7 linked regions of the Homo sapiens genome follow. The protein of the gene in region 2 interacts with the protein of the main gene of each other region in a pairwise test. Each region holds a gene or a part of one and is shown on either strand. Other genes may lie near its edges. The genes, in order: CYGB, DDI1, PTPN11, SDS, KLHL42, EYA2 and UBE2K.

What was found.
Region 1: the proteins of DDI1 (region 2) and CYGB interact in binary tests that used the Homo sapiens proteins (3 or more experiments, as listed by UniProt).
Region 3: the proteins of DDI1 (region 2) and PTPN11 interact in a two-hybrid assay, tested with the Homo sapiens proteins (one large-scale study listed by IntAct).
Region 4: the proteins of DDI1 (region 2) and SDS interact in binary tests that used the Homo sapiens proteins (3 or more experiments, as listed by UniProt).
Region 5: the proteins of DDI1 (region 2) and KLHL42 interact in binary tests that used the Homo sapiens proteins (3 or more experiments, as listed by UniProt).
Region 6: the proteins of DDI1 (region 2) and EYA2 interact in a two-hybrid assay, tested with the Homo sapiens proteins (one large-scale study listed by IntAct).
Region 7: the proteins of DDI1 (region 2) and UBE2K interact in binary tests that used the Homo sapiens proteins (3 or more experiments, as listed by UniProt).

Annotation. Positions count from the first base shown.
Region 1 is NC_000017.11:76,531,210-76,534,709, reverse strand, and holds part of CYGB (cytoglobin), read left to right. Parts: intron 1-3,018; coding exon 3,019-3,250; intron 3,251-3,500. UniProt on the Homo sapiens protein: Probable multifunctional globin with a hexacoordinated heme iron required for the catalysis of various reactions depending on redox condition of the cell as well as oxygen availability.
Region 2 is NC_000011.10:104,035,211-104,039,439, forward strand, and holds DDI1 (protein DDI1 homolog 1), read left to right. Parts: upstream 1-1,429; 5' UTR 1,430-1,612; coding exon 1,613-2,803; 3' UTR 2,804-3,986; downstream 3,987-4,229. UniProt on the Homo sapiens protein: Probable aspartic protease. Seems to act as a proteasomal shuttle which links the proteasome and replication fork proteins like RTF2. Required, with DDI2, for cellular survival following replication stress.
Region 3 is NC_000012.12:112,484,947-112,488,446, forward strand, and holds part of PTPN11 (tyrosine-protein phosphatase non-receptor type 11), read left to right. Parts: intron 1-1,516; coding exon of another isoform or gene 1,517-1,528; coding exon 1,529-1,683; coding exon of another isoform or gene 1,684-1,687; exon of another isoform or gene 1,688-1,977; intron 1,978-3,496; coding exon 3,497-3,500. UniProt on the Homo sapiens protein: Acts downstream of various receptor and cytoplasmic protein tyrosine kinases to participate in the signal transduction from the cell surface to the nucleus. Positively regulates MAPK signal transduction pathway. Dephosphorylates GAB1, ARHGAP35 and EGFR.
Region 4 is NC_000012.12:113,401,088-113,405,325, forward strand, and holds the start of SDS (L-serine dehydratase/L-threonine deaminase), read right to left. Parts: upstream 2,801-4,238; 5' UTR 2,681-2,800; intron 1-2,680. UniProt on the Homo sapiens protein: Catalyzes the pyridoxal-phosphate-dependent dehydrative deamination of L-threonine and L-serine to ammonia and alpha-ketobutyrate and pyruvate, respectively.
Region 5 is NC_000012.12:27,790,233-27,793,732, reverse strand, and holds part of KLHL42 (kelch-like protein 42), read right to left. Parts: intron 2,026-3,500; coding exon 1,832-2,025; intron 1-1,831. UniProt on the Homo sapiens protein: Substrate-specific adapter of a BCR (BTB-CUL3-RBX1) E3 ubiquitin-protein ligase complex required for mitotic progression and cytokinesis. The BCR(KLHL42) E3 ubiquitin ligase complex mediates the ubiquitination and subsequent degradation of KATNA1.
Region 6 is NC_000020.11:46,901,343-46,904,842, reverse strand, and holds part of EYA2 (protein phosphatase EYA2), read right to left. Parts: intron 3,417-3,500; exon of another isoform or gene 3,095-3,416; intron 1-3,094. UniProt on the Homo sapiens protein: Functions both as protein phosphatase and as transcriptional coactivator for SIX1, and probably also for SIX2, SIX4 and SIX5.
Region 7 is NC_000004.12:39,774,636-39,778,135, forward strand, and holds part of UBE2K (ubiquitin-conjugating enzyme E2 K), read left to right. Parts: intron 1-198; coding exon 199-298; intron 299-3,046; coding exon 3,047-3,175; intron 3,176-3,500. UniProt on the Homo sapiens protein: Accepts ubiquitin from the E1 complex and catalyzes its covalent attachment to other proteins. In vitro, in the presence or in the absence of BRCA1-BARD1 E3 ubiquitin-protein ligase complex, catalyzes the synthesis of 'Lys-48'-linked polyubiquitin chains.

The sequences.
Region 1 (3,500 bases), on a different chromosome or scaffold from region 2:
AAAGCGGGCCTGCCTGGGCCCCTTCCTGGCACTGCCATCTACTTTGTTGGGCAATCTTGGACATCAATTCCTAATTCATAGGATGGGGATTAAAACAGTGCCTACCTCAGGAGAGAATTGCAAGGATTCGTGAGATCGTACAGTAAGTGCTCAATAAATGTTCCCTGTTGTTTCCTCATCAGTAAAATAGAGGTAATACCCGCTTAGCTGTGGCAATTAAATACAATAACAGGCCGGGCACCGTGGCTCACACCTGTAATCCCAGCACTTTGTGAGGCCGAGGCAGGCAGATCACCGGAGGTCAGGAGTTCGACACCAGCCTGGCCAGCATGGCGAAACCCCGTCTCTACTAAAAACACAAAAATTAGCCGGGTGTGGTGGCGGGCACCTGTAATCCCAGCTAACTTTGTGAGGCTGAGACAGGAGAATCCCTTGAACCCAGGAGGCAGAGGTTGCAGTGAGCCAAGATTGCACCAGTGCACTGCAGCCTGGGCAACAGAGTAAGATTCTGTCTCAAGAAAGAAAGAAAGAAAGAGAGAGAGAGAGAGAGAGAGAGAGAGAGAAAGAGAAAGAGAGAGAGAAAGAAAGAAAGAAAGAAGAAAGAAAGAAAAAGAAAAAAGGTACAATAACATTGTAACACAGCAGGCAAATATATATATCATTGTTATTATTTTGTCAGGGTCTTGCTCTGTCACCCAAGCTGGAGTACGGTGGCGCCATCATGGCTCATGGCAGCCTCCAATCCTGGGCTCGTGATGCGATCGGATCTTCCTGCTGCAGCCTCCCAAGTAGCTAGGACTACAGACGGGCACCACCACACCCAGCCAATTTTTTTCTTTTTTTCTGGAGACAGGATCTCACTATGTTGCCCAGGCTGGTCTCAAACTCCTGGCCTCAAGTGATCTTCCTGCCTTGGCCTCCCAAAGTTCTACAGGCATGAGCCACCACACCTGACCTTTTATTATTATTATTATCATTATTTCTTTGGATTCAGGGTCTCACTCTGTCACCCAGGCTGGAGTGCAATGGCACAATCTTGGCTCCCTGCAGCCTTGGCCTCCCGGGTTCAAGTGATCCTCCCACTTTAGGCCCCTGAGTAGCTGGAATCAAAGGTGTGTGCCACCACACCTGGCTAATTTTTTGTATTTTGTAGAGACAGGGTTTGCCACATTGCCCAGGCTGGTCTCAAATGCCTGAGCTCAAGCAATCCACCCGCCTCGGCCTCGTAAAGTGCTAGGATTATAGGCGTGAGCCACCGTGCCCGGCCATATCATTATTTTTTATTGCAATTGTAAAACCTCCAAAGTCTGAGATGCTTGTTTAAGTCCAAATTGGGTTTTTCACATTTGTCCCTCATTACAGTGCTTCTCCAGAAAATTCAATGTATTTTCAGACCCGTCGCCTCACGTGTCCTCACCCGTGTATCCATGAAGCAGTGAGCGGGGGCCCTCCTCTTGCCCTTCTGCAAACAGGGAGCTTGTGAAGCGGTTTGCCCAAGGTCACAGTTGGCCTCTGAGAGGGGCCCTCCTGAGTCTCCACACAGACTGTGCCCTGGTCACTGTGCAAACTTCCCCGCCAATAGCAGTTCCACCAGCAGCAGGGATGACCCGGCCAGATGCCCTCTCCGCATCTGTTCCAGCCCTCACATCTGAGACTCGACTCCTGGCCAAAGGGCTACTTCCGCAAATTATCAGCTCTCTCTGATCGCAAAGGGGACACACGAAGGGGCAGAACAACCTGGAAGAACAGGTCCAGGCCACTCCATACATTTTCTGGGGATTCACTTAAGTTATTTAAGTTCTGATTGAGTCGGTGCCCATGTCTCACATGACATCCAGCCCCGACAGGGAGGGGAGGTGAAAAAGTCATTGTCGGCCGGGCGTGGTGGCTCACACCTGTAATCCCAGCACTTTGGGAGGCTGAGGCAGGCGGATCGCCTGAGGTCAGGAATTTGAGACCAGCCTGGCCAACATGGTGAAACCCTGTCTCTACTAAAAATACAAAAAATTAGCTAGCCGGGCGTGGTGATGGATGCCTGTAGTCCCAGCTACTCAGGAAGCTGAGGCAAGAGAATCACTTGAACCCAGGAGGCAGAGGTTGCAGCGAGCCAAGATTGCACCACCACACTCCAGCCTGGATGACAGAGTGAGACTCCATCTCAAAAAAAAAAAAAAAAAAAGCCATTGTCATTTTTCACACTGCAGGGCCCCAGCTAGGGCAGGGGGTCAGAGGGTGCGTGAGAGCCTTGGGATCCAGTCTGACACGCTGGAAGGAGGGCAGGGAAGGTCACCTGAGTAGTGCCAATGGCCTCAGGGGCAAAGCATTTCCCCTGGGCCAGCCTGCTCCAGGTAAGGCATGTCTGACACAGGAAAAGGGTAGTAGAAAGGAATGTGGCTCACCCGAGGAACATTTTCCCAACTGTAAGTAAAGCCGCTGAGCCAGGACAGGGATGATGCGAGTATAGTGGGGAATGTGGACATGAGTTTGAAGAAGCGGGTGGGGGACAGTTCAGAAGTCTGGAATGCCCGGTTAAGGAGTTTCACTTTGGCAGACAATAGGGAGCCATTGAATGTTTTTGAGCATAAGCATGACTTCATGAAAGCAGTATTTTGGGAGAGTCAGAACAATTTCAGTCCAACTAGAGAGGATTTAATTTCAGATCAACTCATGATTCCAGAACCTGAGTTCTTACCCTCTCGGCTATGACTAGAGCAGGGCTTGAAGGGGGTGTAGAGTTTGGGAAGGAAGCAAGAAGCGAGGAAGACAGAGGCCTAGGAGATGAAGCCGCCAGCCTGAGCAAGCCTGGCAGATAGACATGGCCAGACTTGGTAGGGGTGAGCCGGCTTGGCCAGAGGGAGGAGGGTCTATGCTGAGGTCTACTGATGGTAGTGAAAACAGTGACGGTGCGGGGGTGGGGAGCACTGCGGTCCACTTCTTCAGCCCCCACTATCCTGGAAGCTTCAGGGTGGGCCCGAGGCAGCCTCCAGCTTCAGCGACCACCCCTGTTCCTCTTGCCAGGTTCTTTGTGAACTTCCCCTCGGCCAAGCAGTACTTCAGCCAGTTCAAGCACATGGAGGATCCCCTGGAGATGGAGCGGAGCCCCCAGCTGCGGAAGCACGCCTGCCGAGTCATGGGGGCCCTCAACACTGTCGTGGAGAACCTGCATGACCCCGACAAGGTGTCCTCTGTGCTCGCCCTTGTGGGGAAAGCCCACGCCCTCAAGCACAAGGTGGAACCGGTGTACTTCAAGGTATGCGCCCCCATCTGCTGCAGAGCCCCCACCGCCCACGCGTCATGGCCATCTGCAGCTCGCAGGCTCTGCGACGGCTCTCTGGAGCAACAGAGGTGATCCCCGGAGTGGCTGCGAGAGGGAGGGGCAGTGCCCGGCAGCAGGATGGAGGGGCTGGGTCCAGGGCAACCCTTGTCCTGAGAGCACGGGGTTCCCAAAGCTGCCAGACTGTTGCGTTAGGAATGATCCTCTCGGCCACACGTGGGGCGGA
Region 2 (4,229 bases):
CCTTCAAGGCAATGGCCCATCTACCCTATATCCCATTTTAGAGACCCTCTGTGTTATCCACACATTCCACTTTTTTACACTCCCCACCTCCAAGGGGTATGCACACTCTGTCCATTTTACTCAAGAAACATGTTTATTCTCTACTGCTTTGGCTTTGGGCCTCCTGACTTTCCACACTCTAGCAACAGCTCCCTCTTTGAACCACTGGAAAAGCCTCCTGACTGGCCCTCCTGCCACATTATGTCCTCCATGTGTTGCAAGAAGCCTCTTCCTTAAGTCAATTTAAAAAAAAAAATCACAAACACCTGCTTCAAATCTTTTCCCTTTCCTTTCCTTCCTTACTTCTTTTTCTTTTTTTTTTTTTTTTTTTTTGGAGGAGGAATTCTTGCTAATTGATAATATTTAATATTTAAACTCCGTAGATTCACATATGACTTCATCAATTGGCTCAACTAATTTTTTTCCAGCTTCATATCCTGGTATTCAAAGTCATGTACAATTTTTTTATTGCACAAAATGTCTCATCTTTCTCTAGAAATAACAGCCCTTGCCATAAATTCCTGCTTTTGTAACATGAAACTGCTTTCCTTTGGAGTGAGACCACTTTGCACCTGGAAGATGCTCATCCTTCAACATCCAGCTTGTCTCCTCCTTAGGAAAATATCCTCTGTTCTGTTGGTGATACTAAAGGCAGTACCCTGAACATGTCTTTGTAAAAGATTTTGCCTTTAGTATTGTGATTACCCATTCACCTGTCTATCCCTTTCCAGAAATGTGAGCTCCTCAAGGGCAGGCTCCAAATCTGACTTTCCTACTATGCACATAGAATGGTACTTGCCATGTAAGAAACAAATCCTTACTGTTTGGGGAAAAAACAAAAGTACAAAGAATACAACTCTAAAATGAACAAAACAAATGATAATATGCTGTTTAGAAAGTGTTGAAAAACTAGGCATGGTGGCTCACACCTGTAATTCCAGCACTTTGGGAGGCCGAAGTGTGGGGGATTGCTTGAGCCCAGGAGTTGGAGGCCAGCCCGGACAACACAGTGAGACCCCAAATCTATTAAAAAAAAATACAACAATTAGCCGGGCATGGTAGACTGTGCCTGTAGTTCCAGCTTTTCAGGAGGCTGAGAGAGGAGGACTGCTTGAGCCTACGAGGTCGAGGCTACAGTGAGCTGTGATTATGCCACTGTACTCCAGCCTGGGTGACAGGATAAGATCCTGTCTCAAAAAAAAATGTGTTGAAATCATTTCTTTCATATCATGTGTTAAATAGGCTTTGAAGGGCTGGCCTTGAAACCTGACAGCTTTGAGCCATCGTGTATCCATGGGAGTAGGCATTCTAGGTTCCAAACAGCACACTTAGAAATGGACTTTGGAACACAACGTGCTACCTCAAGGCTCCACCTGGCCACACAGCAGGCACTGAGGCTGGGAGACAGCCCCCAGACAGATGAGTGTCCGCGCCTCTCTGAGAGGTGAATGAGCCCGGACGGTCCCTACCTACCAAGTCCTGAGGAGCAGCGGCACCAACGACGCAGGCCCGCCCCAGCCCGCCAGTGAGCCGCCCATGCCCTCTGCTAGCCCGGCCCGCCCGGGCCCCCGCCATGCTGATCACCGTGTACTGCGTGCGGAGGGACCTCTCCGAGGTCACCTTCTCTCTCCAGGTCAGCCCCGACTTTGAGCTCCGAAACTTCAAGGTCCTCTGCGAAGCGGAGTCCAGAGTCCCCGTCGAAGAGATCCAGATCATCCACATGGAGCGACTCCTCATCGAGGACCACTGTTCCCTGGGCTCCTACGGCCTCAAAGATGGCGATATCGTGGTTTTACTGCAGAAGGACAATGTGGGACCTCGGGCTCCAGGGCGTGCCCCGAACCAGCCTCGTGTAGACTTCAGTGGCATTGCGGTGCCTGGGACGTCCAGCTCCCGTCCACAGCACCCTGGACAGCAGCAGCAGCGCACACCCGCTGCCCAGCGGTCACAGGGCTTGGCGTCAGGAGAGAAGGTGGCCGGCCTGCAAGGTCTGGGCAGCCCCGCCCTGATCCGCAGCATGCTGCTCTCCAACCCCCACGATCTGTCCCTGCTCAAGGAACGCAACCCTCCCTTGGCGGAAGCCCTGCTCAGCGGAAGCCTTGAGACCTTTTCTCAGGTGCTGATGGAGCAGCAAAGGGAAAAGGCCTTGAGAGAGCAAGAGAGGCTTCGTCTCTACACAGCCGACCCACTGGATCGGGAAGCTCAGGCCAAAATAGAAGAGGAAATCCGGCAGCAAAACATTGAAGAAAACATGAATATAGCGATAGAAGAGGCCCCCGAGAGTTTTGGACAAGTGACGATGCTCTACATTAACTGCAAAGTGAATGGGCATCCTTTGAAGGCTTTTGTTGACTCGGGCGCCCAGATGACCATTATGAGCCAGGCTTGTGCCGAGCGATGTAACATCATGAGGCTGGTGGACCGACGGTGGGCTGGGGTTGCTAAAGGAGTGGGCACACAGAGAATTATTGGCCGTGTTCATCTAGCTCAGATTCAAATTGAAGGTGATTTCTTACAGTGCTCTTTCTCCATACTTGAGGATCAACCCATGGATATGCTTCTAGGCCTAGATATGCTCCGGAGACATCAATGTTCCATCGATTTGAAGAAAAATGTGCTGGTCATCGGCACCACTGGCACGCAGACTTATTTTCTTCCTGAGGGAGAGTTGCCCTTATGCTCTAGGATGGTAAGTGGGCAAGATGAGTCTTCGGACAAGGAAATTACACATTCAGTCATGGATTCAGGACGAAAAGAGCATTAAAGCACGTTATAAATATGTTACCACCTTGAGGGAGCCTCAGGTCCCCGGCAATTATAAGTTAAGAGCTTACTGGCAATGTAATCATTAAAAAACATCAGTAACAACTAAACCTGGCCTTGGGACTACGTTCTCAGATGGGTAACTAACGTCAATCCTGATTCCTTGGTCTTGGTCCCTCTTCCATTTCCCTTGTCCAGAGATCACTGAAAGGCATCCTGGGAAGGCTCTGGAGGCTCCAGCTGATTTCCAGATAATCCATGAAAAAGAAAACCAGCTTCTTCCTTTAGAGACACTATCCTATCAGATTACAGGTGGCTTATCCAAATCATTGCTATTTTGCAGAATTCCCTGGAAAAATGCTATGGCTGCAGACCTTACAAGGCATCCACATAAAACTATTTCACATCAGCACTAATAATTCTTTCTACTGAGAGAAATATGCCCATTTTCACAGGTTTTGTTTTCTTTGGGAAGGGTATTAGAAATGGTAGGTCAGTTACACTATGATGTTAACTAATACTTATACATGTCTGTTTGGGGCAGCATAAAGACCAATTTCCTCATATTTACACCTTCCCTTCCCCTGGATCCCCTGCAGTCACCCTGCAATCCACAGCTAAAGACTATTTTTGCCATATTTGAGAAAGTGGATTTATCTCCAAGGATGCTACATTAATTTTCTATTTCTCCTGCATTCAAAGAAACTCTGGCTATAAAACAAAGGCAATAAATTAGATTTTTTAAAAAAGAAATTATGGTACTTCTTGGGAGTCAAGTTGTACAGTGGTGGGAATGAGAGGTGGGGACAGGCAGTGGTCCAGGTTCTCTAATAGTCATTGCAACTAGATCATCTCTCTCTCTTTTTCAAAGTAAAAATCTGCTTTATACATTAAGCTGCTGCTACATCAGTATTGTTTGAACAAAGGTTTTCACTGTTAAAATAACATTTGAAAACTTTTGAATGAGAAGATCTCTAAGGCCTCATTCAGAATTATCCATTCTGACAATGTTAGTGTTTATTACAACTGACAGTGGGTAATGGAAGATCCTAGACTTAATTACAACCCATGGCTAAAGCACCTGAGAGAAAAGTTTCAGCTTCCTGAGGCCATCAGATGCAGGGGAAATGTTTCAGGACAATAATTTATCAAAACTAGTATTAAAACAGCGGATTCAAAATCAAGATGTGTATGTTTTGATTACACTTAATTACTTAGACAAATTAGTTCACCTACTTTACAACTGAGATTCCTCACCTAATAATTTTTTTTTTCCTGGGAGGGGTCACTTTTCAAGCACTAAAACCTCATTATCTTAAAGGATCTGGGATATCCTTTAAGTTATTCTATTTTCCCGACAAGATATAAAGCCACATAAAGCATTCCCAAAGGATACAGAAAAAAATAACTCTCCCTTATAATCTCCA
Region 3 (3,500 bases), on a different chromosome or scaffold from region 2:
CCTTTTACATCCCTTTTAAAAATGTCACTTAAGGCTGGGCAAAGTGGCTCATGCCTGTAATCCCTGCACTTTGGGAGGCTGAAGTGGGTGGATTACTTGAGGTCAGGAGTACAAGACCAGCCTGGCCAACATGGCGAAACTCCTTCTCTACTAAAATTAGCTGGATGTGGTACATGCCTGTAGTCCCAGCTACTCGGGAGTCGAGTCTGAGGCCCAAGAATTGCTTGAATCGGGGAGGCGTAGGTTGCAGTGAGCTGTGATCAGGTCACTGTGCACCAGCCTGGATGACAGAGTGAGACTCTGTCTCAAAAAAAAAAGTCACTTAGCTTAGATTGTCTCTACATATATAGGAAGAAGATGTAGGAATGAATGGTGCTGCTACAATTACGTCATCTGGATAGACCCAGAAACATGATACTTTTTGGTTTTCTGTAGCCTTGGTGCCATTGTTGATCTTTATTAATTATCATTATCCTCAAAATAGCCATAATGTGCTGAGTCTCTTCCTATTTGCTGGGCAGAGGCTGAGTATTTCAGCGAGCTCACTGAGTCCTTAAAATTGCATTATGATAGAGAGAAAGAGATTATTATTTGCATTTTGCAAAATGAAGAAATTGAGGTTTAGAGATACCCAAGGGCCACGTGAGTGTGAGTGCCTGGAATTGGAGCCTAAATCTAGTCATCTGATAGCAAAGCCTGTTTTCTTATCTGCTTTGCATTAAATATAAGTTTAAAATAGAACAATACTGGCCAGGCTGGGTGGCTCACGCCTGTAATCCCAGCACTTTGGGAGGTCGAGGCAGGCAGATCACCTGAGGTCAGGAGTTTGCAACCAGCCTGGCCAATATGGCGAAAGAAACCCCATCGCTACTAAAAATACAAAAATTAGCCAGGCATGGTGATGTGTGCCTGTAATCCCAGCTACTTGGGAGGCTGAGGCAGGAGAATGGCTTGAACCCGGGAGGCAGAGGTTGCAGTGAGCCAAGATCACGCCACTGCACTCCAGCCTGGGCAACAGAGTAAGACTCTGTCTTGGAAAAAAAAAAAAAAAAGAATGATACTATAGTCTGTGTTTATATGGTGGGGAAGGTTGAGTATCAAAAAAATAACAAAGAGGAATGAATGTCTTAAGTGAATGCCTGTTTCCCCATCTGCTTCCTCTTCTGCTGGGAGGAGAGACCTGGATCCCTAGAGGTTTCAGTTGCCTCCAGAGCTGAGTGCCACAGGGATGCAGGGGAATAGGGATGTTACCTGTCGCTGGTAATTCAGAGAGATGATTCAGGGTATAGTTACCTGAAAGAACAAATTGCCATGCCAGACGTCTTGGTTCTTATGACAGAGGCAAAGAGTTGCCTCCAGGATTGCCCAAAAGGAGACGAGTTCTGGGAACCTCACGAAGAGGACCTTTCAGTGGAACCTGGGGAGATTCTCTTCCTCTCCATTGGATTTAGGAAAGCTTAGAACCGGGTGATTCCTCAACCTCTTGATTTATTTAATTCTTTTCTGGTTTTTCTTGGCTCTACTCCAGGGGAATACGGAGAGAACGGTCTGGCAATACCACTTTCGGACCTGGCCGGACCACGGCGTGCCCAGCGACCCTGGGGGCGTGCTGGACTTCCTGGAGGAGGTGCACCATAAGCAGGAGAGCATCATGGATGCAGGGCCGGTCGTGGTGCACTGCAGGTGACAGCTCCTGCTGCCCCTCTAGGCCACAGCCTGTCCCTGTCTCCTAGCGCCCAGGGCTTGCTTTTACCTACCCACTCCTAGCTCTTTAACTGTAGGAAGAATTTAATATCTGTTTGAGGCATAGAGCAACTGCATTGAGGGACATTTTGATCCCAAGGCATATTTCTCCTAGACCCTACAGCACTGCCATTGGCCATGGCCATGGCAACATGCTCAGTTAAAACAGCAAAGACTAAGTCAGCATTATCTCTGAGTCCACCAGAAGTTGTGCATTAAACAACTTCATCCTGGCTCTGCAGTTTCTCCTTATTCTTCATGATGTTTGCTTTGTAGCTGTTGACTGCTTTGTAGGTATTGAGGTGGTGGGGGTGTGGTGGAAATAGGCCTGACTCTTGAGGATCCCTTAAGTCATTTTTGCTTGGTTCTCTTTTTCCTTCTTTTCTTCTACTCTTCTATGATTCATCTCTTTGATTGTGATTCTGTTCTCTCTCTCTCTCTCTCTTTTTTTTTTTTCGTTTTTGAGACAGAGTCTTGTTTTGTTGCCCAGGCTAGAGTGCAGTGGTGCCATCTTGGCTCACTGCAACCTCCGCCTCCCGGGTTCAGGCCATTCTCCTGCCTCAGCCTCCCAAGTAGCTGGGATTACAGGCATCTGACACTACGCCCGGCTAATTTTTGTATTTTAATAGAGACAAGGTTTTGTCATGTTGGCCAGGCTGGTCTCGAACCCTTGACCTCAGGTGATCCACCTGCCTTGTCCTTCCAAAGTGCTGGGATTACAGGTATGAGCTACCATGCCCGGCCCATTCTGTTCTCTTCTACCATAAATATATTTCTCCCCTAACACTATATTTGTTTGCTTCACAAGATTCCAGCTGCTTTTCCACCAAGGCCTTTGATGGAAGCTGTGCTGTGACCTCTGTAATGAGTCTGTGGGCTGCTGATTCTCCAGTTTGGGCTTCATGATTATACTGGGGAATATTGGGTTTCCTAAATCTCATTCATTTCTTGGGCAAGTAGATATATGTGAAAGTGTTTATTTGTCCAGTTGTTAAAGAAGCTACCATTTATTGAGCCAGCCTCTGAGCACAATGTTTTTTGTTTTGTTTTGTTTTTAATTTTTAAAATTATTTACTTCTTCTATTTCAATAACTTTATTATTATTATTTTTTGAGACAGAGTCTCACTCTGTCACCCAGGCTAGAGTGCAATTGAGCGATCTTAGCTCACTGCAACCTCTGCTTTCTGGGTTCAAGCAATTCTCATGTCTCAGCCTCCCGAGTAGCTGGGATTACTGGTACGTGACAACATGCCTGGCTAATTTTTGTGTTTTTAGTAGAGACGAGGTTTTGCTATGTTGGCCAGGCTGGTCTGGAACTCCTGGCCCCAAGTGATCCTCCTGCCTCGGCCTCCCAAAGTGCTGGTATTATAGGTGAGAGCCACTGCGCCCGGCCCTCTTTCAGTAATTTTGATGTATTTTTTTGTATATGATTCCTGTTTCATTCTGTCCAACCAGCACTCTGTATGGTATGTGCTGTTGTCCCCATTTCACAGATGCAGAAATTAAGGGTCAGAGAGGTTAAGGGACTTACCTCAGGCACGTTGTACTGGAGAAGCTGAACTCCAAGAGCAGGTTTGGGCTGACTCCAAAGCCCTATGCTTTTTGCCAACATATTTTCAAACATAAATAGACAATTTTATAAATAGCTCCAAAGAGTAGACATTGTTTCTGTTGATATTAATGGCTTGGTTTTGAGTCTGAAACCCCCATGAATGATTCTGTTGTCCCTGCTTTTTGTCCTTCTGCCCGCAGTGCT
Region 4 (4,238 bases), on a different chromosome or scaffold from region 2:
TCGTCTACAGATCGAGACTCTGTCTCAAACAAACAAACAAACAAACAAAAACAACCTGGCAGCTGGCTCTTCTGACATGCAGTTCCAAGTATCTTGGCTTAAATGGACGATCCCAGGACCCAGCAAAATGCCTGACTCATAGTAGATGTTCAATAAATATTTATTTAAAAAAAAACAAAATAACCTAACTTTTGGGAAGCCCAATATTCAGTTAGGAAAAGCTCTTTCATAATTATTAATTTTGTCATAATTATTATAGCAGTGACTAATCACAGCTTTTAAATTTTATTCATTCATTCATTCATTCATTCATTCATTCATTCCAGTAGAGATGGGGTTTTGCTATGTTGGCCAGGCTGGTCTCCAACTCCTGGCCTCAAGCGTTCTGCCCACCTCAGCCTCCCAAACTGCTGGGATTACAGGCATGAGCCACAGCACCTGGCTTGCTGTTGTTTTAAGTCACATTTTGGGGTAGTTTGGTACACAGCAACAGGAAGGGGAATATTAACATAATTTGCCCAAAGTCACGCTGTGAGTGAGGCAGGGAGGCAGGATTTGAACTCGGGCAGCTGGCTCCAGGGCTCAGGCTCTCTCTGCGACCCATGGGTGTGGCTCAGGCTCCTGCTTCTGGATGGGCTCTGGGGGATGAAGCAGCTGGGGTGGCCCGGGGTCTAGCCACAGCCACGTCCACCCACCCAGCCTTCCCATCTCCCCTGCCTTCTGCTGAGAGTCTCAGGGAGGATTTGATTCTCCTCAACTTGGGCCGGGCCAGAAGAGATCAGCTGACGATGGCCAAGGGGCTCTCTGGTTCCCCCTCCCTCCACCATCCCAGAAGGCCAGGCAAGGGTGGCTAGCCAGAGACCCATCTCCAATGCCACCTTGTCCAGCCCCCTGTCCTGGGCACTCCTAGCTTGGACATCCATCCCCCGCTCCCAGAATGAGCCAGACATCCCTTGGTCAGAGGGAGAATGAGGGGTGGGGATTCCAACTGCCCCGCCAGACTTAGCATCCCCTAAATAGGTCACCCCTTGTCTATCTGAATTAACTGACATTCGGGGCCTGGGAGGGGAACTTGAACAGACACCCTCTCTCCGCTGGATCTCTCGAATAAAAATCAGAGACTGGGGCAAACTTCAAAACAGGACATCCCCAAATCGGCATGAACTTTCAGCTCCTGGAGGTTAATCCCCAAACAATGGGATCCCGGTTTTTATTTAGTTATTTTTAGAGAACCTCCCTCTGTCACCCAGGCTGGAGTGCAGCGGCATGATCTCGGCTCACTGCAACCTCCGCCTTCTGGGTTCAAGCGATTTTCCTGCCTCAGCCTCCCAAGTAGCTGGGATCACAGACGTGCACCACCACGCCCGAATAATTTTTGCATTTTTAGTGGAGACAAGGTTTCACCATATTGGGCAGGCTGGTCTCGAACTCCTGACCTCAAGTCATCTGCCTGCCTTGGCCTCCCAAAGTGCTGGGATTACAGGCGTGAGCCACCACACCGACTGACTTGACATTAAAGGCCGGTGTAGGTCACCAAGGCCTGGCCTCAGGGACAATCGGGGTGGGAGTCAGAGGAGCCGGCCACGAAGACCCTTTTCAGGTGGGTTTGGGGCGCCTCTCTCGCCGTTTGTCCCAGGCGGTGCCATGGGATGCCTTCAGGTAAAAGGACAGGGCTCCCTCTGCCGCGGCTTTCCGTGAAGTGAGCATCCATTAACTGCATCCAGCCTGCCCCAAGGATCCCTGCCCCAAGGATCGCAAGACTTCAGAAGAGGTTGTGCCCGGGGAGGAGGAGGGAGGGAGCCCTGAAGCCGCTGTCTGCCCACTCCGGCAGTCGGAAGCCACCTTCCCTTTCACTTGGTTCACAGTAAGTGCTCAGTCGATATGAACTATTATGAAATCTGGGCTGGACACCTTAAGTGCAGGTCATCCTTTCACCGTCACAACCACCTGAGGAGGAAGGCGCTATGCTCATCCCCATTCTACAGATGTGGAAGCTGAGGCACAGAACTGGACACAAACTCAGTGTTTAGGCCCAAATGGCTGTTTTTTAAAAATTTGAGACAAGGTCTTGCTGTGTCACCCAGGCTGGAGTGCAGGGGCGCAATAATTGCTCACTGCAGACTCGACCTCTTGGGCTCCAGCGATCCTCCCAACTCAGCCTTCCCAGTAGCTGGGACTACAGGTGTGCACCACCACACTATACTAATTAAATTCTTTTTTTAGGTCAGGAGTTCGAGACCAGCCTGGCCAACATGGTGAAACCCCATCTCTACTAAAAATACAAAAATTAGCCGGGCGTGGTGGCACACGCCTGTAGTCCAAGCTACTCGGGAGGCTGAGGCAGGAGAATCGCTTGAACCCAGGAGGTGGAGGTTGCAGTGAGCCCAGATTGTGCCATTGCACTTCAGCCTGGGTGACAGAGTGAGACCTCTGTCTTAAAAAAAAAAAATTTTTTTTGTAGAGATTGGGGGGGGTCTCACTCTGTTGCCCAGCTCAGTCTTGAACTTGTGGCCTCAAGCAACCCTCCCACCTCAGCCTTCCAAAGTGTTGGGATTACAGGCATCAGCCACCATGCCCAGCCTTGACAGACTCTTTCTATGTCTCCCTCTTCCCCTGGGAAACCACAGGCTAGCCCGGGACACTCCAGTCCTGAGGTGGGACTGAGGATGGGGCCACTTACCCGGCAAAGGTGATGGGTCTGAGCAGGAGTCAGAGCCAAGCCAGCGAGGGAGGGATCAACTGAGTAGATAGCCCACGAAGAGAGGGGGCTGAGGACGGGTGGACAGTCTTCTGAATGGTCCCAGGGGCTACTTGGTCCTGGGCTTTATTCCTCTGGCACCTCTGGGCAGCCAATGGGGCCCTGGGGCTGGCTACACCCCCCCCTCCCTCCTGCCAGGACCCACCCCCCTGGCTTGAGGCCACTGAGGCTGTCAGAAGGGAGGTGGAATCTGGCCAAGCTTTCTTCTTTGGCAGCTTCCTCCTGCCTTTCCCACAACCCACTCCTCCTCCCTCTTTCCACTTCCCCTTTCTGTCCTCAGTTTCGTGAAAGGAAAATAAAAAATTGGGACCCCCAACTCACTATGCCAAAAGAAAAAGAATTAAGCTAAAAGCTGAGTCATGTAAGAAACTGCCTTTCCTTTAGTTCCTAAGCAGATAGCTTCAGATGAAAGGTTAAATATTGGCTCCGCATTTTGGGAGGCCGAGGCGGGTGGATCACCTGAGGTCAGGAATTCGAAACCAGCCTGGCCAACATGGTGAAATCCCGTCTCTACTAAAAATACAAAAATCAGCCGGGTGTGGTGGCACGTGCCTGTAATCCTAGCTACTCAGGAGGCTGAGGCACAAGAATTGCTTGAACCTGGGAGGCAGAGGTTACAGTGAGACTAGATCTCGCCACTGCACTCCAGCCTTCACAACAGAAAGAAAAAAAAAAGTTAAATATCTCCACAGGTCGCTACTCTATGTTCACCTTATCTTATGTAAAGTGCCGATTTATTGAGATCAAGACAAATACATAATTGGCTACTTCCCTATCTGCCCCTCTTCTCTTACAAACTGTGGATTTGGTAATGTGGCCATAGCCTCCTTCTTTCCCCTCCAGCTTGCTTTTCTCCTTTAAATACTGACACCTAAAGTCATCTCTGGAGAAAAGCACAGACCTGTCTCCCAGGTGCATTCTTAACCCTGGCGAAATAAATTTCTAAATGGATTGAGTCCTGTCTCAATCTTTTTGATTCTTTTTGATTTACAGATTGGAGACTCATGAAAGGGACCCTGGGTGGAGGTGGCCCTGACCTTTGACAAGTCTCCTACTGGTGCTTGGTGGGTCTTGCTCTGTCACCCTGGCTGGAGTGCAATGGCATGATCTTGGCTCACTGCAACCTCCATCTCCTGGGTTCAAGCGATGCTCCTGTTTCAACCCCCCAAATAACTGGGAGTATAGGCATGTGCCACCACACTCAGCTAATTTTTTGTATTTTTAGTAGAGATGGGGTTTCACCATGTTAGCCAGGCTGGTCTTGAAGTCCTGACCTCAAGTGATCCACCCGCCTCAGTCTCCTAGAGTGCTGGGATTACAGGCGTGAGCCACCATGCCGGCCTTGAGCGATCTTGATTGCCCTCCAAAATAGGACAGTTTGCTGAGGCCTGGGAGCTCCCCACCTCCAGAGAACTCCTGATCTCCCACAATTGGTTGATATCTAAGCTTGATTTCCCTGAACAGCTCCTTTTCTGCGTTT
Region 5 (3,500 bases), on a different chromosome or scaffold from region 2:
AGTCCTGGGCTCCATAGAGTCACACAGACCAAATGCAGAAATAGATTTCCTTGGCTAAGAGGTAACTTGGAGACATCTGCTTTGGAGAGTAGAGGGAAGGAAAGGCACCCCTCTGCTTGACTGTCCCCCATTGTCTGTCTTCCCACAACCACAGTTTTATTTTTTCTTTTCTTTTTTTTTTTTTTATTTTAGAGACTGGGTCTCACTCTGTCACCCAGCCTGGGGTGCAGGGGAGCAGTCATAGCTCACTGCAGCCTCAAACCCCTGGCTCAAGCAATCCTCCTGTCTCAGCCTCCCAAGTAACTGGGACTACAGGTACATGCCACCACAACCAGCTAATTTTTTTATTTTCATTTTTAGAGAAGGGGTCTTGCTGTGTTGACCAGGCCTATCTTGAACACCCAGGCTCAAGTGATCCTCCTGCCTCAGCCTCCCAAGCAACTGGGACTACAGGTACATGACACCACATCCAGCTAATTTTTTTCATTTTTAGAGAAGGTGTCTTGCTATGTTGCCCAGGCCTGTCCTCAACTCTCAGCCTCAAGCAATCCTCCTGCCTCAGCCTCCCAAAGTGCTGGATTACAGTCATGAGCCACTGTATCCCACCAACAACTACATTGTTCTCTATCACTGTAACCTGAGACAATTCCCTACCAAAAAGAGCAGTATAAAACTTGCTGGCAAGCAGGGCATGGTGACTTATGCCTGTAATCCCAGCACTTTGAGAGGCCAAGGCAGAACAATCACTTAGCCCAGGAATTCAAGACCAGCCTAGGCAACACAGGGAGACCTTGTCTCCACAAAAAATAAGCTTGTGGAGAAATTTTTTTAATTTCCAAATTATTAACAATAAAATGCCTACCAAAAAAGTGAAAAACACATATATACATTTTAATAAATAGTGGAACCAGGCCGGGCACGGTGGCTCACACCTGTAATCCCAGCACCTTGGGAGGCTAAGGCAGGTGGATCACCTGAGGTCAGGAGTTACAGACCAGCCTGGCCAACATGGTGAAACCCCATCTCTACTAAAAATACAAAAATTAGCGGGGCATGGTGGTGCAGCCTGTAATCCCAGCTACTTGGGGGGCTGAGGCAGGAGGACTGCTTGAACCCAGGAGGCAGAGATTGCAGTGAGCCGAGATCACGCCACTGCACTCCAGCCTGGGTGACAGAAGGAGACTCCATCTCAAAAAATAAATAAATAAATAAACAAATAAATAGATAGTACAACCACCTCCCACTGCTGGTCAGGAAAGAGCTCTCTTGTATTCATGTCCTTGCTCCTCCTGTGATATGTGAACAGTGTCCTAAAGCTGGGTTTCTGGAACCTCTACCTGATGTGTGTGTGCTCACAAAGAGAGAAAATGAGAACTAATCTGCAAGGATGCTCTGGTACTAAATTCCATAATGGTGGATGGGGGCAGGTTTGGTGTATGTTTGGGATAAGGATGGGAGTTCCCAGATAATCTTCTCCAAAGAGCTACCCAACCTCAGAGAGCGACCCCCACAAACCAGGCCCAGCCAAATCACAAGACGGCTGACCAAAAAGCTGGGTTTCCAGAAGCAAAAAAAAAGAGATAACATTTTTTTTTCACAGCTCTCCCTTCCCCATTCGATTTTCATGCTCACACAAAGTTATCAAAAGATCCCTCCTGTCCCAATCATCCCTGCCATATGGAACTCTCTTCCTTCCAGATGTGTAAGTGTACACTATTAAAGCATAACATGACACTCGGATATGTCGGGGCTTCCTCTGACACCCTCTTGCCCTTCCCAGACTGCTGACGCCTACACATGGGCAGACCACCTACCTGGTCCCTTCACTTACCTCTGGTAGTGTATCCTCCAATGACATAAATTTTTCCCTTACACTCACAGGCAGAGAACTCAGCCAGAGGATTGGGTAAGGGCGCCACAAAATTCCACGCATCCTGCTCGGGGTTGTAACACTCAACGTTAGAAACGGCCTGCCCTCCGATGGCATAGAGTTTTGAATTAACAGCCACAAGTTTGAAGTTAGACCTGAAAGAGAGACACAAAGGCCCACAGAGTTAGTTCTTCTGATCAATGAAAAGTGTAACAATGGCATGAACTACTAGACTCTCCTGAACATCTGAAGAAAATTCGCTCTCCCAGTTGGGGGCCATTCCGCCTGAGGACAGAGGAGGAAAGGATGGCTTCTCGAATCTCACTCCTGTCCCCAAGATTCCACGGGAATGGCACACTGTCCAAACACTAGCTATCGAAGATAAGCAGTTCAATACAACAAGTTATTAATCTTGTTCAGCCTTAGTCCAGCAACCAAAGACAATGTGTATACACTAAACTCCACACTTTCTTTCAGGGGCAGGCACAAGGGTAAGAGGGGAAGGCACCCACATCACCCCATTGTCTTTCACCTCTCAGAATGGGTATTTCATTCTTCCTACTGAGTAGTATGGCTTCATCTTAGGGACACACTGGTGCTGTCGAGACAGGCAGGTGCGAGGAGTGACTGCTAAAGGGTAGGTCAGGAGATCCTTGCACAACGAGTATACCTGAGCAAGACACTGGTCCTGCCTCCCGCCTCCAAGGGCATCTAACATACTGCTTCACAACATGTAAGATGGGGAGAGGTCAGCACTGAACAAATTCACAGTTTGTATTTATTTATTTACTAATTTATTTATGAAACAGGGTCTTGCTCTGTCACCCAGGCTAGACTGCAGTGGCACAGTCATAGCTTACTGCAGCCTTGAACTCCTGGGCTCAAGAGAGTCTCCTGCCTCAGCCTCTCGAGTAACTTGGACTACAGGTATGTATCATCATATTCAGCTATACTCAGCTAATTTTTTATAAACAGTTTTTTGTGGAGATGGCATCTCACTATGTTGTCCAAGATGATCTTGAACTCCTGGCCTCAAGTGATCCTCTTGCTTCAGCCTCCCAAAGTGCTAGGGTTATAGTTATAAGACACCACAACCAGCCTCAAAATATTTTGATCCAGCATTCTTAGGGTCTTTACATATGTTAATTCAACAAATACTTCTATTGACAAATGCTCATCTTTCATAAAAATAATAACTTGAAAAAGAGATGGACAATGGTTTCCAGCTCTATATTCAGAAAATAATTAAATGCTGCTTATCAGCTTCAGACACTAAATAAGTCTTATGATTTTTGAACTGAATAGTAACACAAAATTAATTTGTTTCGATATAGCACACAAAAGGCAGGAAGGATAAACTCTTGGGAGTGTTGGGTCAGTCTGCTGTGAGGTGTGCAACAGTCACAAGTTTACAAGAGGATGAGCAGCAGCATGATGCAACAGAAAAAAACCTGAGCACAAATCAGAAGACCTCGCTTCTAGTCCCAGCTCTGCTGATAACCAGCTATCTGACCCTGGTCCAACCACCTCACTTCCTCATCTGTAAAATGGGGTAACAGCCATCACAAGGTGGTAGAGATGATTAAATCAAATAGTCTATCAGAAACTACTACACAGAGATAAAATACTA
Region 6 (3,500 bases), on a different chromosome or scaffold from region 2:
AGTGATACAATCCGCCATCTGTAAAACCTGGTGAAGACTACAATGTTACAACTTAGATTAGGTTTGCTCATATAGCATATCAGATCTGGAAGGTTCTGAGTGGGCACCATTCAAAGCCAGGGTTGGGAGGGGCCGTGCGTCTTTGGCAGGATCGAGTAGCAGGAGAAAAATGAGAAATATTTTGTTTTTCTTTTCCAATTCATTAAGGCTTGTTGAGGGGAGCAAGAACCTCATTTTTTTCCTTCCCATTACTTCCCTTTTATTTTAGGGGAAACATGCATTTCAAAGACTGCTCAATAGCAGCGTTGAAGTCTCAAGTTCAATCACAATGTCCCCATTGTGGCTGGGGGACTCCCTGGCCTTTAAGCTTGGGTTATAAAAATTTGGTCTGAGCCCAAAGTCTGGCTTTAATAGAATATTTTAATTTTGTGTAATGAATATTATTTTAAATCTGTTTGGCAGTTTTAAAATGTGTTCTTTTATTTTCAAATTAAAATTTACTAATGTTCAGTGCTTTCTTGGGGGTGGGGGTACAGCAAGAAATGGGGGTGGTAATAATACAAGCTACCATTTATTGAGTGCTTACTATGTGCCAAACACCCTGCTCTGTGCTCGGTGTGCCAGCCACTCTTTTAAGCCTCCCAACCACCCCAGGAACAGTTAACTGCTGTCTCCGATGTCTGGGACGTTGAGAGGGTCAGACCCCTGCTGGAGATGGCAGTCCGTGAGTGATGGACTGACTCAGGCTCAGGCCAGATCTGTCTGAGTCCAGGGCCTGTGCTATCGACCACTGCCCAACATTCTCTCGATACCTAAAATGACTCAACTGATCAATAGCTTATAGACACCGCACTGATCCAGTGCACTGTTCCCCATAATCTCAATAGCTAGCTCATTGAACATTGAATGGAGGCAGGCAGTGTAGCAAAGCTAAGTGTTTTCCATGTATCGCCTCATTTATATTCTCACAATGGCACTATGAAAAGTTATTTTATTATTGTTGTTACTATTATTATTATCATCCCAAAGAGTCTAAGTAATTTGCTTCAGGTCAAATTCATAAATAATAATAATAACTGTAGCTGACACTGATATAATTCATACCACTTGCCAGCCGTAGTTCCAAACACTTCATGTTTATTAACTCAATCTCCACGATAGCTTTCTGAGGAAGGTGCATTATTATTCACCCTGCTTTACAGACGAAGAAACTGAGGCACCGAAAAGTCTGGTAACTTACCCCCAAGTTAAACGCAGGAGTAGGTTAACACTGAGGGGAAGTGTAACCTGAGCAGCCTGGCTCCTGGACTCAAGCTCTTAATCTCGAGGCTGAAAGTCAGTACCCAGGCTGAGGTTTGGAAAGTCTGATTCTCTACATTCCTCCTCATTCTGCACAACGCATTGAGGGAAGCAGAGAGTTGCTGTCGGCCGAGTAAGCCTGGGGCACTGGTAAGTCCTATATGCCTAGTGCGGTTTCAGGTGCAGAAGCCGAGGCACTGCTCTTACTGAACCAGGCATAGCTTCTGTGGGTGAGGGTCTACAGACTGAGGTGTTGCTTCCATTCTGCTGCTCAAACATTAGAAAGCTCAAAAAGTCATGTCAACACCCTCTGCACCCTCAGGAAAGAAGAGGCCATGGGATACTGGTGAGAACACATTGGGATCCTCCTACCGGAGATGCTGGATTTGGTCCTTCTCACCTCTGGCTCTCCAGTAAACAGCCCAGAACACAGCTAAATAAGTGTTGTTAAGTAAATGGATGAAGGAATGAAGTCACTTGTAATTTTCCCCTATCACTGTGCAATGTGTCAAGCACATTGGAGGCACCTGATAAATAATAAATCATTGAAATGGTATACGAAATGTCCCAAGTGCATGTTATTTCTGGTCTACAAGGATTGTCTTGTCATATTGCAATAGCTTAGAGGTCAGCAAACTTTTTCTGTAAAGGGCCAGATAGTCTTTGCAGGCCGTATGGTCTTTGTAGTACGGCTGTTCAACCCTGCGGTTATAGGGCAAGAGCAGCTGTAAGCAATGACTTAGGCCACTAACTGCAGTGATGCTACGACCATTTCCATAGGTCCAGCTTGAAACATTCATTCATTTCTACAAGGGCAGATTCAAAATCTTGTGAGAATCTGCTGGCGTCTCTTACTTTCTCAACCTGATTTTTGTACCTAACCATCGATAAATATCCATAAGGCAATGCAAGTGGAAAAGGACTTTAAAATCTAGCTCTCCAGGGCAGACAGATGGAGAAAGGGAAGTTCTTGTTATACCACGGGAGCAGGCTGGACATCCTAGTGGTTAGGAATCAAAACTGGGTTTAATCCTGGCTCTGGCATAAGCCATGTGATCCTGGACAAGTTACTCTCCAGACTCAGTTTCCACATCTGTAAAATAGAAATAATAATAACAGCACGTTCCATCTACTGCCATTTGGAGACAAAACATATAAAGTATTTCCACAGCACAATGCCTGGGACATAATAAATATTCAATAAATAATAAGTGTTCAATAAAACCTGTGATTCCCAAACAAGTCTTACAACTCTGTGTTTTCTTAAAAACAAAAGAAAATCCCCAAAACTAATTCACTAAAAATAAGCACAAAGGAATGACAGCAAGGCTACAGGAAGACATTTCCAAAATCGGGTCCCAAGGTGTTAGAAAAATTGTCCACTCTAGATCAAACCTCTAGCAAACCCCCAACCTCTCTGTGCTTCCCCCTCAAAAAAAGCCTGATTCTATGTCCTTTTATCAGTTTGTCTTTCTTGTGGGTGCCTGAGCAATGCTGAGACATTTTGAGCGTTTTAGACATTTGCTGAGTTTAAGGCATTCTTTCTCCCCTCCTACCGGTCTTCTCTCCACACCCCAGCCATTAACTCCTCCAGGGAGTATGGTCTGTTTAGCAAGAGGAGAGCACTGGACAGCTTGGGCCCATCGCAGACCGGAGGTGAATCATCTTCGGGGCTCCATTCTTTTTCATGTCTGGACGGGGCTAAAACTCTGTTGACAACACAGGCACAAGTCACAACTTGTTATACCACGTGACACCTTCCGAGCAGCGGAGGCTTCCCTCTACTCTAGGAGTCACACAAAAGGCCAAAGGTGCACGATTCTCCTCGGGGCTCCTTCCTCTCCGCTCCCTTCCCAACCAAGAAGGACACGCAGAACTTTGCTGGAGAGATCAATGTTTCTAGAACACCCTGAAACAAAAGTCCTGATATGTGCAAATAATACACACCCACAAAAGAAAATAACCTCTTTGCGCTGACACCCTGCCTCTCCGAAGAGGACGTTTTCTCCCTACTTGGAATTTCCATCAGCACCTGGGTTGGTACCAAACTCAGGACGTGGTGGACACGCTCTCTGACTCTGTATTTCAGGAAGCTGCCAATCAATAGAGATTTAAAGGTGAGTACTTATACCTTGCATCTTAAATGCTAGAAAACATAGTGGGAACAAAAAATTGTTTTGGAAACCATGAATACCTTAACC
Region 7 (3,500 bases), on a different chromosome or scaffold from region 2:
TAGGCAAATTGTAAAGTAAGGAAGAAAATATATGATAGGCAGATACATAATTATAAATGTCTATGACTTAACTATATAATTAAGATAAAGATCTAAGTAACTTTTAGCTCTACAATTTTTTAATTTTTATTAAGAAAATACTTTGCTTTTGCCTGCAGAGCCCTCTTAATTGGGATATTTTCATGTTTTGCATTTTAGGGCAGCTGCAATGACTCTCCGCACGGTATTATTGTCATTGCAAGCACTATTGGCAGCTGCAGAGCCAGATGATCCACAGGATGCTGTAGTAGCAAATCAGGTAAGATGGCCGCTTTTGAAAGACTTTCTTATATTATGTATGAGTCTCTAGCCACTTCAGTGGTTTGCACATTAACACATGAGCATACTCTATTGAAACTAAATTTTGAAATGGTTTTCTTTCTTGTGGTAGGATTATTTTGTCAGGTGTAATAGTGAAAATAGACTTTTAACATCCTAGTTTAATTGGATATAGATGCTGTTTTCCTAACATGAGTATTTTCAAACACATAAAGTCAAAAGAATTACATAGTGAACACCCATATTCCTACCATCTAGATTCTATGATTAATGCTCGTGTATGTGTCCATCTTTTTATCCTTCCTTTCAGTGATGATCCCTCCCTGCTAATAATTTTAATCACCTCCTATCATGGGACTTATGTGACATGGCACAGTTTCCAATGACCTTGTAATTTGTTGAACAGAATAAATATTTTTCATTTCGCTTTCTAGCTACAGTGGCTGAGTTTATTAGTTACAACGGAGACTGGACCTAAGTTATTAGTATCTGACCTGTTAAGAAACAGTTTGCTGGCCAGGTGTGTTGGCTCATGCATGTAATCCCAGCACTCTGGGAGGCTGAGGTGGGTGGTGGATCACTTGAGGTCAGGAGTTCCAGACCAGCCTGACCAACGTGGTGAAATCCTGTCTGTACTAAAAACACAAAACTAGCCTGGCGTGGTGGCACACACCTGTAGTCCCAGCTACCTGAGAGGCTGAAGTGGGAGAATCGCTTGAACCTGGGTGGCAGAGGTTGCAGTGAGCTGAGATCACACCATTGCACTCCAGCCTGGGTGACAGAACGGGACCCTGTCTCAAAAAACAAATTTGCCAACACCTACTCTAAGCCATTGGAATATAATGGACATTTTTTTTTTTAAACTTAGAAAGTTTTTCTTCTCTTGACTTCTAAGATATTACCCTCTTTTCTTCCTCACTTCATAGCTGTTCTTTGTTAGTTCCCACAATTATTTCCCTTCTTACTCGTCTTTCTTAAATGTAGTTCCTCAGTTCTGACCTTGTTACCTTTACTTTCTGTACACACTCACACTTGGATGATCATATCTGTACTGATGTTAGTACCTGTACATTGATAAAATGTTTAGGCTTGCCCTCTCTCCTAAGCACGAGAGCCTGGTGTTTAACTAAATTGGTAGGTGATGGTATCATAGAATGATAGGTTTGTAGGATTTATGATACTGCATTCAGTTTTGGCAGTGTTACATTCAGGTATCCAAGGAACATTCATATGGTTAACCACCCAAGTCACAGCCTTTGGAGTTTTTCTCTGTGTCTCCTTTGCTCCTGTTGATAACCATTCCCTGTATCATTCTGTCACTATATTTACATAATTACTCTGATTGCCATAGGTCACTTTTAAAAAATTGTTTCTTTTCAACTGCTCTGATAGATCTCCTTTTCTCAACCTCTTTCTTCCTTTCTCCATCTTCTACATTGCTATCAGGTAGCTTTATAAAGTGCAAATCTTACTTCACTAACAAAAACTTGTTCGTAGCTCTACTGTCATCTACTTGAGTCCAGATTCTTTAGTTTGCAGAGTTTTTCCATGATCTGAACTCTGCTTTATTTCCTAAATTCTTGTTTTCTTCAAACTCATGCTTTTTCAAGCATTGCATTCATTTTTACATATTGTATCCAATCTACCATATTTCCTCTGCCTGAGGAAACTTCCTCTTGGCAAACTTCTTTAACCTATAAGATTTTAATTTATATATTATCTTTCTTCTTTTCCCTTGAAGATCTGTTTATGTATATATGTATATATCCTTGTCAATATATTCTGTTATTTGTCTCAGAGTACTTCCAATTAGGGTTTTCCATGTTTTATATATGTGCTATTTGTTCATATTTGTTGTTATAAGCATGGCTTGTGTTCCAGCTTTGCTTTCCTATTGAGCTCTAAGCCTTACACGTTGAGGTTGGACTCAAGGGTTTCTTTTAGCTCCTAAAATAGTTCAATAATTTGACTTATTTCCTTGTGATGAATAAGTGGTAGAAACTAGATTTATCGTTTTAATATGTAATAGATTTAAATATATAAATTACTTTTAAAAGAAATATTAAAGTGAATTGAATAGTTAGTAATTTATACTTTGCTTTACTAAGTAATGGTGGTTCCAAAGTATTTGATAAATTTACCTCTTTCCAATGCATATGGGAAGTCTTTTAATAAAATTACTCTATTGTGAGTTTATAATCATCTCAAGTTATGTAATAAGTTAGGACTTTGCATGTGGGGTTTCCATAAATCACTGTACACTAATGCAGCTGTAAGAAAACAGAAGAATCTAGTTGTATTCTAGCCTGGGCTGTGGGTAATACAAAAGCTGGTTACATCGTAAAAAATTATTCTAATGTCCACATATTTTTATAAGCTAGTAATCTGTGTTCAGTTGTATAATGTTTGCTGCTTTCCAGTGTTTGGAACATCTCTTAATACCTCACTTAACCTAATTTTAGTCTTGCTAGTTATATTTGTTGAATTTGGAGATTAAAGTAGATTAATGTTACTTGTCTTTATTATTGTCAACACAAATTGTGAGTCGAAGCTTCAGGTTAAGTGGTCTTTTCTCGAGTGACATAGGTTGTCTATAATGCAAAGTGAATCACATTTTAAATGTAGATTTGTTTTATTTGGAAAAGTAGGATTGTAGGCGATTAAGAGCTGAAATATATCAAATATTATAACTGTAATGTCATGTCAATCAATTTTTCCCCCCATATAGTACAAACAAAATCCCGAAATGTTCAAACAGACAGCTCGACTTTGGGCACATGTGTATGCTGGAGCACCAGTTTCTAGTCCAGAATACACCAAAAAAATAGAAAACCTATGTGCTATGGGCTTTGATAGGGTAAGTACATAAGGGCATGTTGATTTTGATATATTGATTGATTTTAAATTATTGCAAATTCTTGGCTGACAAAAGTGGTTTAGAAAATAAGAGAAATTCGCAGCCTGGGCAACATGGCGAAACCCATCTCTACAAAAATTAGCTGGACATGGTAGTGAGTGCCTGTAATTCCAGCTACTCTGAAGGCTGAGGTGAGAGAATCCCTTGGGCCCAGGAGGTCGAGGCTGCAGTGAGCGATAGTCATGCCACTGCACTCCAGCCTTGGTGATAGAGCAAGACCCTGTCTCAAAAAAAAAAAAAAAAAAAAAAAAAAGGAAAATAAGAG